4 linked regions of the Homo sapiens genome follow. The protein of the gene in region 2 interacts with the protein of the main gene of each other region in a pairwise test. Each region holds a gene or a part of one and is shown on either strand. Other genes may lie near its edges.

Evidence for each region.
Region 1: the proteins of PPP1R16A (region 2) and ATP23 interact in binary tests that used the Homo sapiens proteins (3 or more experiments, as listed by UniProt).
Region 3: the proteins of PPP1R16A (region 2) and CDCA7L interact in binary tests that used the Homo sapiens proteins (3 or more experiments, as listed by UniProt).
Region 4: the proteins of PPP1R16A (region 2) and BATF2 interact in binary tests that used the Homo sapiens proteins (3 or more experiments, as listed by UniProt).

What each region holds. Positions count from the first base shown.
Region 1 is NC_000012.12:57,951,000-57,955,708, forward strand, and holds part of ATP23 (mitochondrial inner membrane protease ATP23 homolog), read left to right. Parts: intron 1-758; coding exon 759-896; intron 897-2,606; coding exon 2,607-2,690; intron 2,691-4,709.
Region 2 is NC_000008.11:144,476,220-144,481,680, reverse strand, and holds the start of PPP1R16A (protein phosphatase 1 regulatory subunit 16A), read right to left. Parts: upstream 3,700-5,461; 5' UTR 3,554-3,699; intron 3,331-3,553; exon of another isoform or gene 3,128-3,330; intron 3,096-3,127; exon of another isoform or gene 2,999-3,095; intron 1-2,998. UniProt on the Homo sapiens protein: Inhibits protein phosphatase 1 activity toward phosphorylase, myosin light chain and myosin substrates.
Region 3 is NC_000007.14:21,903,758-21,908,466, forward strand, and holds part of CDCA7L (cell division cycle-associated 7-like protein), read right to left. Parts: coding exon 4,373-4,709; intron 2,883-4,372; coding exon 2,811-2,882; intron 2,700-2,810; coding exon 2,532-2,699; intron 1,875-2,531; coding exon 1,749-1,874; intron 503-1,748; coding exon 353-502; intron 1-352. UniProt on the Homo sapiens protein: Plays a role in transcriptional regulation as a repressor that inhibits monoamine oxidase A (MAOA) activity and gene expression by binding to the promoter.
Region 4 is NC_000011.10:64,993,530-64,998,835, forward strand, and holds the start of BATF2 (basic leucine zipper transcriptional factor ATF-like 2), read right to left. Parts: upstream 3,443-5,306; 5' UTR 3,386-3,442; coding exon 3,347-3,385; intron 1,021-3,346; coding exon 919-1,020; intron 1-918.

The DNA of each region.
Region 1 (4,709 bases), on a different chromosome or scaffold from region 2:
ATAAATATCTGGCACATATCCCAGTGTCTGGCAGTAGTACACAATCAATGGCAGCTATTACTATTAGGATCCCTTGTGTCTTTCTTATTCTTATAGGGTCCTGCTCAGTGTGCTGTTGTGTTTTGCACTTCTTTCTGAAGGTCTTTCTGATGAGTTTTCCCTGGCATTTGCCCTCATTCTAGTAAAATGAGGACAGTGGTGGTCATTCCTTTTTCATTCAATGCTCATTCAGAAACTTGATAAGAAGTATTTTACATATATTCTCATTTAATTCTCACAGTTCTATGAGGTAGCTACCCTAATTATCTCCTTTTTATAGTTGAGGAAATTGAGGTACAGAGAGATTAAGAAACTTGCCTAAGGTCACTGAGTTAGTAAGGGGTGGAGCTGGAATTTGAATCTGTGTGCTTCATTCCAAAGCCCACTCTCTTAACCATAATGCTGTGGAGTCCGAGACAGACTAGTACGATCAGCCCAGTAAGGATGGTGTGTGAATACGTGTCCTTAATCTAAGTACTGCTGTAGTCCAGAGAGAGGAGAAGGGAGAAGTTAGTCACTGGGCGAGGCAATTGGAGCATGTACACTTAGGACTAGGACTTGTCCCATGGGTAGATGTGTGGCCAATGAAGAAGAGTGGGTAGAGATATTCCAGGCAGGTGAGCTTGTGGGGGAGAGGTGAGGTCATGTGGGAGAGAAGATCGAGTCTATGGAAGGAGATTTTAGAATCACTGAACTTCTTTTATTTTGGTGTCTCCTAGATAGTTTTGTGCCAGAATAATATCCATAATCAGGCCCATATGAACAGAGTGGTCACACACGAGCTTATTCATGCATTTGATCATTGTCGTGCCCATGTCGACTGGTTCACCAACATCAGACATTTGGCGTGCTCAGAGGTGAGTTTTATTGTATTTTTCTCCAGAATACTCTATGCTTGAATATTTTATTCAAGTGTAATTTATTTAAATGTATTCCTTTTCTTACTGTCATAGTTCTACCTTAGTCTTGAATTTCGGTTTATAACTAACATTGAATACCATTTTTGATATACAGTTAGAGAAATTTAAAGTGTATTTTTAGAATTCTCTTAACTATATCCTGTAAGTCCTAGTAATAGTGATGACTGACTTTAATAAGCTATTAATTTTTTCCTATGGAATATATTTTATAATGTATTCCATAGGAGACATTAATAATAAAAATAAAAATAAAAAAATAATTAAAATTTACTGAGGGCTGTGTTCCAAACACTGTTCTGTTTGCACAGATTCTTATTTAATCTTCACAATAACCTACTGAGATAGATATTATACTATTATTGTCCCTGTTTTACATATGTGGAAAGTGAGACAGTTGTTTAGATTCCAAAGTTAGTAAGTGGTAGAGGCAGGATTACAACTAGTGTTTTTAACTAGCTTGCCCAGCTGCCTTCCATAGAGCTCCTTGCTTGCCCTAGAGTAAAACATGCTCTTTTCAAAAATACAACATAAAAAGATATTTATTACTAAGCACGTTGGATTGCTCTTGGAATATGCTCCTAGAGAGAGCGTATTCTGCATATGCATATACTTGGATGTCATTAATTGAAGAGTTAATTAAAATAATCTAAATCTCAAGCCTATACTATATAACTTCGATTATTTCCCTTTCTCTTGAAATTAATATGTAGCCCCCTGCATCTAATTATAATTCCAATTATTTGGAGAATAGACTGAAACCTGAATTTTTAAATAGGTCTCTTTCTTGGGTACTGTGAGAATTAATGCCTTTTAGCTAGTTAAAGTGTGTTAAGTACTTTGAGCTCCTCAGAGGAATGAGGCCATAATATTGAAGAAGGAACAAGAAGTGGGCCATTCTGTTAGCAATGAATTAGCAAAAATGTGGTCAAGCTGCCTGTAGAATCTATGTGGGTAGTTCTAAGACTTTTTCATTCATTGAAGTATAGTAAATCTGAAAATATGTCCTAATTTCAGGCTGTCATGCTCATAGCGTGACCAGTTTGGAATGTTCTTGATTCTTTGTGTTTTGTATTGCTTCATTTTTCATAGGACAATCAAGTCCCTAGAGGAAGGTCATGAACTTATATAGGTTTGAGGGAAGCTCCAAGGGAGATTCGGGCAAGGGTTGGGAGGGGCATATTCTCAAAGTGTCTCAGATATTAATGCATTCAGTTTTAAGGTCACATTGAAACTCAGTTTATTTCAAGAATGCTTTCTTGAAGTACTTTTGGCAATTTCTACAAGTATTTGTATCTTGTAGAGTGTGTAGTTTAACTCTGAGGTCTAGCTCTCTGACTTTTGGTTCCAAAAGAAATTAGTTCTGTCAGTAAAGCTACGCATAAAGTTTAGAAAATTTCCTTTGGTAGGCGATTGAACTTTTCCCCATCTCTCCAGTGTATTTGGCATTGTCTAGCATAGCTCATAGATATTTGCTCTCGTTGTCAATAGAGTTTAAAAAGTCCTTTAAGAAGAAGTGTCACAAATACTCTTTTCTCAGACAAAGATGCTAATTTTATATTCTTTTCTAATTTTTAAAAATTGGTTGATATCATAAAGATATATAGAGCATGAGCGTTTATTTCTTTTTATTTGTCTTCTGTGTGATAGGTTCGAGCTGCTAACCTTAGTGGAGACTGCTCACTTGTCAATGAAATATTCAGGTTACATTTTGGATTAAAACAACACCACCAGGTAAAAACTAATATGAAATCACTTCCCCTCCAGAGTGTTACGAGTGGAAATAATGAATAAAGAAATGAAAAGTACATTCAGTATTTGAAATTTGAAAGAACTTCGTATGTGAAAAGAATACAAAGTATGTACCATTTAAACAAAGTAGATGGAATTTAGTTCTACTTTGTAATTATGGGCAAGCTATGTGACTCAATGAGTGTGTGAGATAGTCTAATAATGAAAAGAGGCCTGGTGCGGTGGCTTATGCCTCCCAGCAGTTTGGGAGGCCGAGGCGGGCGGATCACGAGGTCAGGAGATCGAGACCAGCGTGGCCAACATGGTGAAACCCCGTGTCTACTAAAAATACAAAAAAATTAGCTGGGCGTAGTGGAGCACACCTGTAGTCCCAACTACTATGGAGGCTGAGGCAGGAGAATCACTTGAATCTGGGAGATGGAGGTTGCAGTGAGCCGAGATCATGCCACTGCACTCCAGTCTGGGCCACAGAGTGAGACTCCATCTCAAAAAAAAAAAAAAAAAAAAAGGAGCTAAGATCTTGCATCTGGGATACTTTTCGATGGGGGTGGATAAGGAATGGAAGTGAAATCACAGCATGTCTTACTGTTATTCTAACAATTCTTGACTTCTATTTTGAATCTACCATAGCATTCTGGAGACAAAAGATGTAATCCCTTTCAGAACAGAGAGTGTGTTGCTGCACAAGTTATGGCTATGTGTCAGTGTACCTGTAAAGGCTATATAATGTGATAGAAAACCTTTGGCTTAGCACAGACTTGAGTATGATGAGCTTAGCTGAGAGGGATTTGTGTGAACAAAACAAAAACAAAAAACAAAAGAGAGCTATAAGGCAAGATTATCCTGGTAGAAAGGCTTTGAGATCTGTATTAGGTGGACGTGGGGAAAGAAAGTATAGGACTCATGGATTGATAATGAATGTGAGCAGTTCTGCCTGGGCCTGTGTCCACATTTAGGAGAAAGGCTGGTCAGTCATTTTCTACAGTAAGAGCCTGCTGAGTCAGTTTGTGAAGTATATGAGCATCACGATATCAGTTCCAACTAGATGAAAAAAGATAGGCTTAGGACAACAGGAAGGCCCTTGGTTTTCTGGAGAAGAGAGTAACTCAACTCTGGAGTGGGGGGTGGAAAGTCACAGTGAGCTACTCAGAAATTGTGAACTTAGTGAATGGGAGGGAGAAGAAAAGCCTTCTGCCTGGAAAGGGTGATTACTCTAGACAGTGAGGTGTTCAGCCTCTGCCAGGTCAGCTTAGTGATATGCCAGTGACTTGTCTTGTGCTGCATGTTTTCTGTGCCCTTGAGTCCCTGCTTCTCTGGTGAATTCTGTGTGTTCTGGCTGTCAGTGGAGAGGGTGGAAGCAGGGTACACATCAGCACGCCCCTAGAGAAGAGAATAATGTGGTTAAAGCATGTGCTGGCATAGCTTATGGATATCTGCTCTTGTCAATAGAGTTTGAAAAATTCCTTAAAAAAAAAAACTATTACATATACTCTGTTTTTAGAAAAATATGCTAATTTTATATTCTTTTCCAATTAAAAAAAAATCAGTTGATATACTAAAGAAATAGAGCATGTTTTTTTTTTTTTTAATTCACCTTCTATCTTTGTGATAGGTTTGTGATGCACACAATCTTTGAAAGAGGAAGTTTTCCTCTTTTTACCATTGGGTAGCAGCAGCAGAAAACAAATAGAAACAGCAATAGGACAGAAAATAAGTGGAGGTAGTAGGAATCTGGCTGAGGGAGAAGAGTCTTAGAGAATGGAGTCCCTGCTTTTGTACAGCATGTACCCAGGAAATAGAAACAGCAAGTACAGTTACTGATTGTAAAATTGCATAGTCATATCTTTATTTTAACAGAAATTTATTATGTCTGAAAAGAAGTAAATCTGTGGTCTACACTTGTGTCTCCCAACCCTGTGGCTTCAGGAGACAAATTTTTGTACCTTTTTTCCCTGGAGGGGAGAAATTTCCTCTCTTTTTAGCAACTGTTGTTTTGGCTTC
Region 2 (5,461 bases):
ATATGATTCCATTGATGTGAAATTATTTTATTTTTTGAGATGGAGTTTCGCTCTTTTTGCCCAGGCTAGAGTGCAATGGTGCGATCTCGGCTCACCGCAACCTCCGCCTCCCACGTTCAAGGGATTCTCCTACCTCAGCCTCCCGAGTAGCTGGAATTACAGGCATGCGCCACCATGCCTGGCTAACTTTTTGTATTTTTAGTAGAGACAGGGTTTCTCCATGGTGGTCAGGCTGGTCTCGAACTCCCAACCTCAGATGATCCACCCGCCTCAGCCTCCCAAAGTGCTGGGATTACAGGCGTGAGCCCCCACGCCCAGCCAATGTGAAATTCTTAAAAAGGGACGCCAAACCTACAGTAATAGAAAGCGATCACTATTGCCTGGGCTGGGTGTGAGGAAGGGCTTACCACAGAGGAGCACGAGAGAACTTTTGGGGGCAACGGAAATGTTTTATATTTGGATTATGACGTTGTTCACAAAACCCATCAAACAGGCCGGGCGCGGTGGTCACGCCTGTAATCCCAGCACTTTGGGAGGCCGAGGCGGGCGGATCACGAGGTCAGGAGATCGAGACCATCCTGGCTAACATGGTGAAACCCCGACTCTACTAAAAAAATACAAAAAATTAGCCGGGCGTGGTGGTGGGCGCCTGTAGTCCCAGCTACTTGGGAGGCTGAGGCAGGAGAATGGTGTGAACCCAGGAGGCGGAGCTTGCAGTGAGCCAAGATCGTGCCACTGCACTCCAGCCTGGGCGACACAGCATGAGACTCCGTCAAAAAAAAAAACCCATCAAACAAAACCCATTAAACAAAACCCATCACACAAAACCCATTAAAATAGGTGCATCTTACTGTAAGTTACACCTCAATAAAGTTTGATGTAAAAAATCAAAGCATGGGCTGGGCACAGTGGCTCACGCCTGTAATCCCCGCACTTCGGGAGGCCAAGGCAGGAGGATAATGAGGTCAGGAGTTCGAGACCATTCTGGCCAACACGGTGAAATCCCATCTCTACTAAAAGTACAAAAATTACTGGCCGTGGTGGCATGCGCCTGTAGTCCCAGCTACTTGGGAGGCTGAGGCAGGAGAATCACTTGAATTCGAGAGACGGAGGTTGCAGTGAGCTGAGATTGCACCACTGCACTGCAGCCTGGCTACAGAGCAAGACTCTGTCTCAAAAAAAAAAAAAAAGATATAAAAATTAACTGGCATGGTAGCATGTGCCTGTAATCCCAGCTACTGGGGAGGCTGAGGCAGGAAAATCATTTGAACGCGGGAGGCAGAGGTTGCAGTGAGTGGAGATTGTGCAACCGCACTCCAGTCTGGGCGACAGAGTGAGACTCCATCTCAAACAAACAAAAAAACAGAAAGCCACATGGTCAGCAAAGCCTAAAATGTTTGCTGCCTAGCCCTTCACAGTAAAAGCTGGCCAACCCCTGGTCTAGCACATTTATTTGGTGCTACCAGCTTCATCATCACCGCCACCTTCATCAGCTGCTCCTTCTGTCTGGAAAGTTCTTCCACCGGATCTTAGGACAGCATGCTCCTTTGTGGGACTCGGATCACATCTTAAGTGCAACCTCCTCAGAGATCTTCTGTGGTTACCTTGTCATTCTCTTATCTCATCACCTTGTTTTAATTCTTGACATGCCAGTTACTGTTTGTTTCCCTGTTGCATCCTAAGAACTTGGCCAGTTCCTGACTCATAGGCAGCACTCAGTAAGTGCAGTGAGCTGAACAAGTGAACAGCTGCTGAGCCTCTGGCACAGGGGTCCCAGCACAGGATGTGACATGGAAGGCTCTGAGCTCCTGGCTGAGCAAGTCTGATGAAAAGGCCTCCCTTTAGGTGTGCGTGCACCAGTGCCAGGAGAGCCTCGGCATGAAAGAAGGGCCTGGAACTGCCACCCAGTTCTCATTTTGGCCAATGGATAGATGTGGCACAAGTGCTAGGGTTAGGACACGCTCGGGGAAGAGCAAGGGTGGAGCTGGGGGTGCTGGTAGTCTGTGGGGTCACCTGAGACTGAGGTTCCTAAGCTGCATGCAGTGGAGAGCTGTATCAATCGGCTGTTCATTCAGACCAGAGGTTCAAGAATCCCTAGAACACAGACCCCAAAGTACAGTCATACAGGAGGAGCCCCCTTGCTAGGTGCCAGCCCAGGCAACCCTCGGGGCAAAGCAGAGTCCAAGTGCATCCCAAGCAGGTGAGGGATGAGGCCAGGACAGGCCAATCAGAGACACGAGGGATGGCCCCAGCCAACAGGGAGGAAATCCAGCTCGAGCACCAGGAGGGGGAAGGACCCCCTAAAGCCACCCCCATCCCAACCCCAGCCCGGGGGACTTGGGGCAGGGGCAGGCAGCTGGCCCTGTAGAGCTCTGAGCGTCCACCACAGTGACAGGTATGGAGCCAGCATGTGTGCAAGTCCACCAGGCAGCCCCCAGCCCCTCAGGCAACCCAGCCGCACGCCGCCGGAGCTCCTCTCGGCGAGTCGTGGCTCTGGGTCCCTGAATCAGGCAGCGCAACCAGAGGCCTCTTCAGGAGGCCCAGGGTACTGCAGGCAAGACCCTTCTCCCAGAGAAACCCCAATACGTCCAGGAAGCAACTGGGGCGCCAAGACGCCCAGGAGGGCTCACTGCTGGACTAGACACACTTTGAGAAAGGCAGCGGTACCCCCGCCTCCACCTCCACCCCCAGGTAGGAATCCAGGAAGAAAAGGAAGGCACAGAGGTTTGGGGAAGGCTAACTTTGCTCTGTCTCCCCTAAGCCTAGAATGACTCCGTACACGGCTCCCCTCTCTGCACCCATGGAAATTAATCCCACCGTGCCCCGGGCCTCCGCTCTGGTACAGACAGGGGCCCACACCAGTCCTGGACGCTCCCTCCCAGGCGGGGTGCTTGCTTAGTTAGTAATTCTTGCCCTGATCCCAATTCCTGAGGGGTGGTCCGGACGCCCCGCACTACAAGTGAGGTCATTTGAATCCCTGAAAGTTGAAGGAACTTGCCCCAGTGAGACTCCACTTTCTCCTTCAGCCTAGCTCCAAGGCCCACACAAAGCTTAAGTTTGGGTAAGTCCCTTCTCTGCGGCCTCGATTTCCTCATCTGAAAATGAAGACAATTCCGGAGCTGTCTACCTGACCGACGGGCTGCGGAGAATCCACACACCTTCGCCTTGGAACAAAACGCGAAGCGCCCACCGGCAGCCTTCGGCTCCCTGCCTTTCCTGACCGTTGGCACCTGCTGCCCTGGGCCTCAGCCAGCAACGCCCAAGGCGGCCCGGCGGGACCTGTGCCCTGGGCGCCCGCGTGCCGGCAGCCGCGTCTCCCGAGGGCCCCTCCCCGGCCTCCTCCGTCGCCAGCCTCCTCTCTCCCTTCGGTCTCCTCCTCCTCCCGCCCTTCCCGGCCTCCTCCCTCTCCTCTGCCTCATCCTTCCCCGGCCCGGCCTCCTCTCTCGGTGTCGACCCAGTGCCCCTCCTTCCCGGGCCCGCCACTGCTCTCCCTGGCCGGGGCCCCTCTCCCTCGCTCCGCTCCCGCCGCAGGACCCGGGAGTCCGCGCCTCACCTCGCGCCCCGCGCCGACCGCCGCACAAGTGGGTCCGCTGGCTTCCGCGGGTCAGTGGGCCCCGCGCTCCCTGAGGCGCTGCGGGGGCGGGCCCCGCACCCGGCCCTCGCCATGGCAACGCTACACTTCCGGCCCGCGGTACCCATAGCCGGAAGCCGCGGTGCCCCGTGGGAGCCGGGGGCGGAGCCTGGGAGGAGGAAATGTCGGGGGCGGGGCCTGGGGAGGGACGGTCGGGGGTGGGGGCCAACGCGGACAGCTGCGGGCGGCCGGGCGAGTCCTCCGCGGCTGGGACCTCCTTGGGGCGTGGGTGGGACGGGAATGGCTCAAAGTGCTCCAAGGCTCCCGGGACGGTGGTCATTGATTTATGCTGGACAAAACCGAGTCATCGCGGGCAACGGGACGGGCGCCAGCGGAATGGGTGGCAGCTTTGGGGGTGGTTTCGGGCCCAGGACAGTGCGGTCGGAGAAGAGCGGTCAGAACTTGGGGAGCCTCCAGCGCCCCACCAAGGAAGCGCCAGTGGAGAGGGGGGTGCCTTAAAACTTACGGGAGACCGGGCGCGGTGTCTCACGCCTGTAATCCCAGCACTTTGGGAGGCCGAGGCGGGCAGATCACGAGGTCAGGAAATCGAGACCATCCTAGCTAACCTGATGAAACCCCGTCTCCACTAAAAATACAAAAAAATTAGCCGGGCGTGGTGGTGGGCGCCTGTAGTCCCAGCTACTCGGGAGGCTGAGGCAGGAGAATGGCATGAACCCGGGAAGCGGAGCTTGCAGTGAGCCGAGATCACGCCACTGCACTCCAGCCTGGGCGGCAGAGTGAGACTCCGTCTCAAAAAAAAAAAAAAAATTATGGGAAAGGCCCGGCCCGGTGGCTCACGTCTGTGATCCCAGCACTTTGGGAGGAGGCCGAGGCCAGTGGGTCACTTGAGCCCGGGAGACCAACCTGAGCAACATAGGCAGGCCCGGTCCCTACCAAAAATTAAGAAATTAGCTGGGCTCTGTGGCGCACGCCTGTAGTCCCGGGACGCTGAGTCGGGAGGATCGCCCTAGCGGGGGAGGTGGAGGCTGCACGGGGCCCAGATCGCACCACTGCACTCCAGCCTGGGCAACAGAGTGAGACCTTGTCTCAAAACAACAACAACAACAAACACTTGTAGGAAAGAACGACGCCTTGCTGACCGAATGGGGTGAAGTGGCCACAAGTATTAGCCTCATGAGGCACAGGATTGTGCAGCCATAACCTAGGGAACACAGCAGAGAGGTGGTGGCAGGAGTCCTGAGGGAAACCACGTGGCGTCTGAGGGGAGAGTCAGAGATAGAAGGAAAAGGGGCACCACCCGACCGGGGGTGTGGGGGGCAGGAGCAGTGTGGTACCCCACATACAAGGCCCCTTGCGGCCCAGGCCTCCTCCTCCTGGACACTTGCTGCCTGTCCCTCCCCTCCACACCTCAGGGTGTGCTGGACCCCACCGTATGCTGCAGATTTTCAGCCCTTTGAGGTTATCATGGTGGAGGCTGCACAAGAAAAGCTGAATTCTCAGAGTGAAGGGCAAAAGCATATCCCTGGGCCCCCGTGTGTCTGGGGGCCCTTGGCCTGGTGCCAGCACCAACCACCGCTGCTAATTCCCAGAGCTGCTATCCTCTTGGGCAAACTTGCCCCTTGTGAGGGAGGAGAACCTGGGCTTTGGGGCAGGATACACAATACCAGCCTTGCTTGGGTGGAGGAGCAGAGATGGCTAGGGAGGAGGAGGTGAGCGGTCCACCTGGGCTCCTGAAGCAACTCCCAGGAAATCAGTTGAGTCAATGTGTCCCCCTCTTGTTCCTAGGGTGCGGGCTTCATGGCCTTCTCCTCCAGGAAGCTCCACCTGATCATGTCCTGGGTGGATATCCAGCCCCCATAGTTCAGGGCC
Region 3 (4,709 bases), on a different chromosome or scaffold from region 2:
TCTCCACCTCCCTCTCAGCCTGGCCCAGGAAAAACAAAACAAATCAGAGGGAAATCACTTTGCTGAAGGACAGGTACAGGGATTACTTGCATAAAACTAGAGGACTGTAAGCAAGTTTTGCTCTGACAATGGAAAATCTAACAACATTAATTCTTCTATTCACTGGTCAGCTTGCTCTCCTTCCAGAAGGAATCCCTATTTTTCATTTTCCCTGGAGCCTTAAGATACAAATGGAAGGGAAAAACCAGAGTTCTGGAGCTCCCTAGTTCCCAGTGAGAACCCAGGAGGCCCATCTTTATAGCTTGCTTCCTTCACCAATACAATTTACAACAAATGCAAACACTGTTCCTACCGGGTCCAGCAATGCCGATCTGACATCCTCCCCATAGCGGTTCCGCAGGCATGGTCCACAGAACTGTCCTCGCACACCACAGCAACCCTGGTTCCGACACACTGTCTTGGTGTCGATGGTCTTTTGTCGACACTGATGGCACGTGTTACCCTACAGGGGGAAGGCAGTGAGCAGGTGAACACAGGGATATGCTGATGCCCAATGAGGCCAGATGCCACCATGTGCATTTCCAAGTATATGAAGAAATACCCCCGTCTCCTCGAATCAAGCAGGACTGTTTTCCTAAGAACCACAGCATTGTCTCTAGACCGGGGTCCCCAGCCCCCAGGCTAGAACCAGTCTGTGGCCTGTTTGGAACCGGGCTGCACAGCAGGAAGTGAGCAGCGGACGGGCGAGCATTACCGCCTGAGCTCTGCCTCCTGTCAGATCAGCAGCAGCATTAGATTCTCATAGGAGCACAAACCCTCTATTGTGAATTGCACATGTGAGGGATCTAGGTTGTGCACCCTTTATAAGAATCTAATGCCCGATGATCTGAGGTGGAACAGTTTCATCCTGAAACCATCCCCTTCCTGCCCCCCAAATCCATGGAAAAACTGTCTTTCACAAAACCAGTCCCTGGTGCCAAAAAGGTTGGGGACCACTGCTCTAGAATGTAACCATCACAGGTCTGTGGCCAGAGAAACATATTAGGTCAGATGAGGCTGAGCAGAGACCCAGAAGGAATGAAATGATCAGGCTGTCAGGAAGAGAGACCAGAGAAAAGCTTGAGGCAGGGGTGGCAGAGCCCCTGAAAGGTGACAGGTGACTGAGGGGCAATGAGCCTTGGGTGGCATCACCTCGGCCCCAGCCTAGCTCTGCAGACCTGGATACCTTCAATGTGAGATCTATTTTTTTTTAAATATTGGCAACTAAATTTAAAACTTGACAGTGTCCCGTTACATATCCAGAAAAACACAAAAAAAATGCAGAACGCAAAGCCTCCCTCTAAATCACCATTTAGAAGAAATTTAACCCATTTCCTACCAAAGATATTCTGCCAAACTTTAATTTCTATGGTTATATTACCCCCCAAATATACTTTTTTCAATATTTAGAACATAAAACTATATGCTTAAACCATTAACAGTTACATATAAAAATCCCTTTTAAACTATACCGTTCCCTTCCCCCAGATTCTACGCATCCCTAAGAGAGACCGCCGTCCAGATGGGAATTACTGCACTAGGCTGCCTCCCCTTTCCCAGGTACAGCTGACTTTTGACCCTCCAATTCAGAGCCTGGCTCTGAGCCCTTGGTGAGATGGCATAAGCCCTGATAGAGTTTAAAAACAAGTGAGATTTCAATACCAATGCCTTCGACTCCCAATAAGAATGACAATTAATGTATACTTTACCAGAACTTTATCATAGATTTTATCTCGAACAGTTATGGCAACATTTTCTAAGTCCTCTTCGGTGATATCCTCCACTGGCCGAAAAGAAGATATACGGTGACGTCGTCTGTACTCCCGGCATTTCCCCTGCACAATGAACACAAGCAGAACATGGAGATGTGTTGAGCAGTTATAAAAAAATTATAAATATTTTAAACTCTCAAAGATCTAGCACCATTAATGTTAACCCCGTCCCTCTTCTATTTCCCTGCAGCCATTTCATTTAGTTATTTACTGAGCTCCTGCCACCTGCCAAGCTTCCTTCTCAGCAAGGCGATACAATCATAAAGGAGGAACTCAAGGTTTTTGGTTCTTTGCTGTAAACTCTGTGGAGAGGTGAACCACACTGAACAGCCAAACCCACAAATGGGTCCACAGTTGCTCCCTCCAAACTGAAAGCGCTTGAAACGCCTCATGCCTAAAACAGAAAGGCAAGGAGGAATCACTGCACTTTTCTTTATTGCCTGCAGCAGAGATTAAAGCAGGGTCCTAACAAATGAGCTGCTTCTCAGCTCGGCTTGGATAAAAGACTCTCTCTGTGACCTCCAGCTTAGACCAGGGCTGCTTCTCAAAGTGTGATCTCAGGAGCAATGGCATCACCTGGGAAGCAGAGAGAAATGCAAGTTCTCAGCTGCCGCAGACCCACGGGGTCAGAACCAGCCCTGGGGTGACAGTGACGTGCGTTCACGTTTGGAGGGATGGTAGCTCAGACAAAAACTAATTCATGTATTAGTCAGAAAATACCCCAATTGTCTTCCTTCTTCGGAAGCTGTAAAACTCTTCCGCAAATTTAGCGGCTGAGACAGTGAAGTTCTCTAGAGCAAACTTCTCAGGAGGCCGCGCACTCCGGGTTGGGTTCATACGCCGCGTGATCTGTCCCTCCGAGAAGGCCCGCCTCACTGTCTTCTTCCTCTGAAATCAAGAGCACAGACAGAGACAACTGGGGACTCTCTCGAATAAAAGCCGTCTGGTGGCTGATCACCATATATCAGTATTGGTATAATTATAAGGAGTTCTACTTACAGAAGCTGAGGTTGGGGTTCGTACTGGGAAGAAATCTGGCATCGAGTTCAATTCCGCCAATAACTGGGCAAGCTGAAGTTCAGAACAAAAGAAAGAATCTTACAAAAATAGGGCTCCAGGTTTAGGTCATCCAACACCTATCTCAAGTCTTCCATTTTGCCACCATAAGAAACCTAACTTGAATAGTTTATATAACCCACAACAGTTATACTTTTAACCTCACATGTAAAGATTGTACCTCCAGACCTGAGATGCTGATGTCATCATTCATATGAATGAACACTAGCCTATTCCTTATATATAAGGACAACACAACACTATGAAAACAGTCCTGGAATGATCAAGACCTGGAGCATGAGGTTCCGATCCCGACTCGGAGGCTAATCCAAGGCGGTGTGACCCTGGGACAATTCATTTTGCACACGTGAGTCTCAAGTTTCAGGATGTTCAAAAAAGAAAAAGCTCAACTAGATTATTTCGATGGTTATTTAGAACTCCAAAAGTCTGATTCTTTAAATAGATTAATTTCTCATCAATCAAAGTAATCTATGAAGATATTCCTACGTGAACTAATAATACCAAATAATAGGCATTAATATGCCAGAGAATTTAATTAGGATTCGTTTTAGTTTATACAATTATATGAGTGCCACCAAAAAAATCATAAAGAAAATAGCTTATTTTAAAGATGCAGATGGATACAGTGCTGAAAATTTCCCTTAGCTAAGTAAAAATGTTTCTTAGGATAAAAATAATCCGAAAGTAGGCATTCCATTTTTGTAAGTAATTTATATTAGACATATAAGCTTGCATATACAGTATCACTGCATCATTCTTTTTTTAAAAGGAAAAGATTAAAAAATTACCAAAATGCTAAAAGGGATAAGTGGTAGAACTATTTAAAAAAAAACTGTAGATAAACAATTATGAAGCAAACAATGATTCTCTACAATGATCAGATTAACAGTAATTGATTATATACAGAAAAACCAAATATATGTAACAAAGATTTCACCTGGTTCCATTCATTGTTCTAATGAAGACAATGTAGAGTGAATTAACACTGTTGAGGTTGTTTTAATTCCTAGACCTCTTCCATTCCTTCAGAAGTCTCAGAACCAGTGCTGGTCACCATAGAAGAGTGGTTCTGTGGTGAAAAGCTACCTGCCCAACCTGCTCCTTGCAACTTCTCAGTGGACTTGGTGACATCCCACTTCCCCTGCTTTACTCTGCTGGGAACGGGCTAGTTGTTCAGCCCCTCTCATCCCCAACACAACTATATACTTAGAACTTAGCTTGGTCAACAGTAAGCAGCATTATGGCACCATGTAGGGGCTAAAAATGGTGCTGGGGAATCTCTTTCTGTTCCCAAACCAGAGCTGATCATGTAATAGTTGCTCTGGGTTCTGGAAAAGTAAAAGGATACACAATACCCAGAGTATATTTTCTTGACAGAAGCCAAAGCAACAGCAGCAGCTGTAGGAGCAAAGTGGTTCTGGGAGCCCAGCAACTGCTGCCAGAGCCTGGTGCCAACTCCCAGGACGCCCTCCGTGAAGCCTCACCATGGCTTTGTTCTCCTTGATGTTCATGGTCCTTTTCAGCAAAGCATCTGAACTCTCCTGGCTCTCATCCCGAGAGTCATCCTCAGACTCAGAGGTAGAATCTTCCCTTTGTATCACCTGTCTACAGTCTTTCTTTCTTTCAAGAATTGTTTTTTTCTCATTCTGTAAGCGTGCGCTAGAAAACAACTGCTCGGAAGAACTGTTTTTATCTGGTTTGTTGGCCAGCTTCTTGGTGGGGAACTGAAAGGCTACTCGAAGACCAATACTACTTCTTCTAGACCTGCTTCTTCTAGGGGTAGCCTTATCTTCTTCTTCATCTTCCTCTTCCTCGCTCACC
Region 4 (5,306 bases), on a different chromosome or scaffold from region 2:
TTCCCAGCCTCCAAAACTGTGAGAAATAAATGTCTATTGTTTAAGCCACTGTTTATGGTATTTTCAGATGAGCATGAAGCTCAGTAAAGGAAGCAACTTGCAACTGGGACTGGAAACCCTGCCCATTTTAACCCTGAACCAGAGTTCTCACAGTATGGTCTTGGTCACCTCCTGAATTCTGACCCCCAGGTGATTAATCACAAATCACCGTGCAGGTCCCTGGGCCCACCTGGCCTCATGAGGTGGGACCTGGCAGAGGAAGAATAATCCACTTTTTTTTTTCTATAGACAGGGTCTCAATCTGTTGCCCAGGTTGGATGCAGTGGTACAATCATGGCTCACTGCAGCCTTGAACTTCTGGGCTCAAGCGATCCTCCTGCCTCAGTTTCCTGAGTAGCTGGGACTACAGGTGTGCACCATCACGCCCAGCTAACTATTTTTTAATTTTTGTAGAGACAGAGTCTCACTATATTGCCCAGGCTGGTCTTGAACTCCTGGGCTCAAACAATCCTCCAGCCTCAGCCTCCCAAAGTGCTAGGATTACAGGTGTGAGCCACAGTGCCCAGCCTGGAATCTGCATTTTAACCAGTGTCTCAGCTGGCCATTGTGTTGGGGTCTCCCTATTTGCCTCCACTTCCTGTCTTCCTTCCCCTAGACTGCGGACACCTTAGGACACGGCTGGGCTGAGGATGACCCTTTGTGTCCCTGGAGCCTGGTGTGTACCTGGCACATGGTTTGTACTCAACACCCAGAACTTTCCAAATGTCAGCCACAGGATCCTTTTCTCATCCCAAACTCAGGTGACCTAGAAAAATACAGGAGTTTGGGGGAGGTCTGCTCAAAGGTGGGATGGAGAAGAGGTGGCTGGGCCAGTAAGTGGAGCCAGAGACAAGGAAAGGGGTTAGGGGTTGTCCACACCTGGTGCAGGGCGTCTGCCTTGTCTGTGTGCTTCTGCCGGCTTCGCTGGGCGGCTGCCCGGTTCTTCTGCTTCTTCAGCTGCCTTTGTTGCTCCTTGGGGTCCTGTGGGGCATGAGGCAGAGGACTCAGGGGGCCCAGCCAGGCCTTGTGCCCTCCGTCCTGGCCCGCCATTTGTAAAGCCAAGTCTTTCCCCTTGAGTCAAGTTCCCAAGGGTCTTTTATCTCCCAGAAGCTCCCTTGGCACCCACACCCCCTATAGCAGGCACTGCACACCTTGTTGGAACGCCAGCCTCACCCCTGTGTCCTGCTCACCGCTCATGTGGAGGGTGGGAGGGCAAGCAGGGAAGATGGGAAGCCTGAGATTCAAACTCAGACAGAGCCAACTTCAAACCCCACATTCTTTTTTCCTTTTTTTTTGAGACAGAGTCTCACTCTGTTGCCCAGGCTGGAGTAGTGCAGCGGCTCTATCTTGGCTCACTGCAAACTCTGACTCCCGGGTTCAAGCAATTCTCCTGCCTCGGCCTCCCAAGTAGCTGGGACTACAGGCACCTGCCACCATTCCTGGCCAATTTTTGTATTTTTAGTAGAGATGGGGTTTCCTCATGTTGGCCAGGCTCATCTCAAACTGGTCTTGAACTCCTGACCTCAGGTGATTCACCAGCCTCGGCCTCCCAAAGTGCTGGGATTACAGGTGTGAGCCACCGTGCCCAGCCGAGCCCCATATTCTTGAACCCAATCGCCCCATCCCTGCAATGGAAGCACCACAGCAGAGGGTTAAAGCCCATGCGGCAGGCAGCCCAGAGCCGGCGTGCCATAAAGCTCAGCTTCCATTCTTCTCATTGCCATGATTTCCACACCAAGGTGTGAACTTTCCTAACTGTGAGCTCCATGAGGGCAGATGTGGTTCTCTGTGCTCATGCCCAGCTCAAGCCCAAAGCAGATATTCACTTACTCAACAAACATGTATAAGCACCTACTATGTTCCAGGCAGTAAGCTAGAGGGACATGATAGCAAACAAAATACACACAAATCCCTGCCCTGAAATTGCTCACATTGTAGTGGGGTGGTAGCGAAGGATGAATGAATGAAGGGTTTATTCCGGTGGAAGAGTGGACTCAAAGGTTGTGACCACCTTGTACCCTGGGATCAATGAAACTTAGATAAAATATTTTACCCAAATGTCCAGAGCTCTGCAAAGTCAGAGCAAGAGGGACTGTTGGAGAGCTCACAGCCCAGCCCCCGCCCCCAAGTCTCTCTGGGGTATGTGTTTTGAGGGTAAGGACCTCAGGCAAGGCCCTGGCCGCCCTGGCTGCAGATTCTGAATGCTCCTAGGCTCCTGCTCCATATGCTCCCTTGGGCCATGTCCACAGCGGGCTCACTGTAGACACTGGGGCACCAAGAAACTAAAGGCTGAGACAGGACCCACGGTGAGTGAAGGGGGCTCCTGTGAGATAAGCAGAGCCTCCAAGGGAAACCATGGCCCAGGGAATTTATTTATTATTTTACTTTATTTTATTTTATTTTATTTTATTGAGACAGAGTCTCTGTCGCCCAGGCTGGAGTGCAGTGGCGTGATCTTGGCTCACTGCGACCTCCGCCTCCCAGGTTCAAGTGATTCTCCTGCCTCAGCCTCCTGAGAAGCTGGGATTACAGGCATGTGCCTCCACCACGCCCAGCTAATTTTTCTATTTTTAATAGAGACGGGGTTTCACCATGTTGGCCAGGATGGTCTCGATCTCCTGACCTCAGGTGATCTGCCCGCCTCAGCCTCCCAAAGTGCTGGGATTACAGGTGTGAGCCACTGAGCCCGGCCTATTTTATTTTATTGAGACAGAGTCTCTCTCTGTCACCCAGGCTGGAGTGCAGTGACATGAGCTCAGCTTACTGCAACCTCCATCTCCCGGGTTCAAGCAACTTTCCTGCCTCAGCCTCTCGAGTAGCTGAGACTACAGACGTGCCCTGCCACACCTGGCTAATTTTTGTATTTCTAGTAGAGACGGGGTTTCGCCATGTTGGCCAGGCTGATCTTGAACTCCTAACCTCATGTTATCTGCCGGCCTCAGACTCCCAAGGGGCTGGGATTACAGGCATGAGCCGGCCTGGGTTATTTGGAGAAGGAAGGAAAGGCTGCTGTGAGTGTAGTGAGGGGGGACCAGGTACGTTAGGAGAGAGCAAGTACACAGAGGCCAAGTTCTAAACCGAAGGCTGGATCTGCAATGTGAGAGCTGGAAACAACTCATTCCAATCCAATCCCGACTTCGGGGGAGGAAAGTGAGACCCAGAGAGGGGCATGCAGAGCCCTCTGTCACACTGCTCAGAGTATAGAGCTGGGACTAGGAGCTCCCGACTGCAGCCCTCACTGCCTGGGCACTGAGGACGGGATCCCAGCTCCCCTTCTCATCCCCGATCCCCAATCCCCTGTACTCACTGTCTGGGTCAGCAGCCCATTGCCCCCACAGAGGTGCATGGCTTAGGCGGGGGAGCAGAGTGGTCCCTCAGCAGCTGTGACTTCCCAGTGCCCTCTGGAGGCCTAAGGAAGTGGCAGCTCTTTAAATCCCCAGTGGCCACTCCGCCCCCAGAGGGCCAAGTTTCAGTTTCTCCTAAAGCCACCAGCTGCTCAGAATCCCTGGCTCAGGCTTGCTCACGTGGCTAGAATTTCCTAACATGAACTGGCCTTCCGGTTGGGCCCCTTCTCTGGAAAGAGGATGGTGGAGGGTGGAGAGGAGGGAAGACCAAAGGCCAGGTATGAGGAGGGTGTTCTAGGGGAGGGAGGACAGGCGGCCAGGGACTGAGATGAGAGAAGAAGCCAGTGGGGACCGATGCTCATGTGGGGTAGAGAGAGCCCTTGAGCTCTGGAATTGGGGGAACTCTGGATCACAGCACACATTGGAGCTGTCCAACTTTCAGAAAGTGACTCTCCTTCTCTGAGCCCTAGTTTTCTCATCTGGAGGATGGTACAACTACCCACTCCCAGGCTCATTGCAGGAACTAAGCCAGATAATACAACCACCCCCAAACCTTCTGAGACCACTATGGAAGCATGTCTGCAAAATTAAGCAATGGCTGTTGGATAGAACAGATGGATACATTACTGTTTTCATACAACAGACCATGAAGCAGTGGAAAGATTGATGTCCAGTGGTTAGGAGCCCAGCTTCCAAGCTATGTGACTTGGGTTCGTAATTTCATCTGTGTTTCTGTTTCCAAATCTGTAAAGTGGGGATAAAAACAATTTTGTTAGGCCAGATGCAGTGGTTCATGCCTGTAATCCAAGTACTCTGGGAGGCCAAGGCAGGAGGATTACTTGAGCTCAGGAGTTTGAGACCAGCCTGGGCAACATAGCAAGACCTTATCTATATTAAAAATAAAAAAAATAACTGGGCATGGTGGCACACACCTGTATTCCCAGTTACTCAGGAGGCTGAGATGAGAGGATCACTTGAGCCCAGGAGTTCAAGGCTGCAGTGAGCTATAATCTTGCCACTGCACTCCAGCCTGGGCAATAGAGCAAGACCTTGTTTCAAAAAAATTAATTAATTAAAAATTAAAAAATAAAGACCTAGCAAACCCTGAAGCCCCGGGCATACCTGCATGCTTGTTGTATCTCTAAGAGGGACACTTGGATGGGGCATCTGTTTGGGGGCCAGAGGGGCCAGTAATTCCTGTCCAAGAACAGCATGCATGCAGTATGTAGAGTCCTATGGTCTGGTGACTAGAGCATCTTGGAGTTGTACCTGAGACCTGAGGGCTCATGGCTGATGATGTGGTATCACAAGAATGGCAAATACAGATATGATCTTCTGATAGGTGATGGTGGCTGGAATGTTGTTTTAAAGAGTTCATGGACACCTCTGAGCTTAGTAAAAAAGAGTACTGCAGTTGATTAGCAATGTCTGCCACACCATGATCGATTAGTGATGCCTGTTATGGGCAGAGGTGTGGAGAGTGCAGTCCCCTGCTATCCCTAGAACCAGGCATAAAACAAGTCTGGGTTTCAGAGACAAAAGACTTGACTCTCCATCCTGGCACTCCACTCACCCAGTTTATCACCTGGAGCCTCAGTGTCTTCAAAGATATGCTGGTGATCACAAAGAAATGATACCTATTTGACAGTTGTTTTGAAGATGGGAAAGAATGAGATGAGAAGAAAGCTCTTGGGATATTGTAAAGTACTATGTGGCAAGGATTCCCCCTCCTGAAATTTGTGGTGTCATATTCTGGATTCTAAGATTATTAATGCAGGCTCCTAATTTAAAATGCCTGGGTGGGTGAGATTGGGCATAAGAGCTGGGCCTTGCCCTCCTAGCTTCTGAGGGGCCTGGGAGCAGAGGCGGAAGTGGGATGCCCCACGCAGTGAGGCCATCCCTGTTTCTCTGAATTATTGTTTC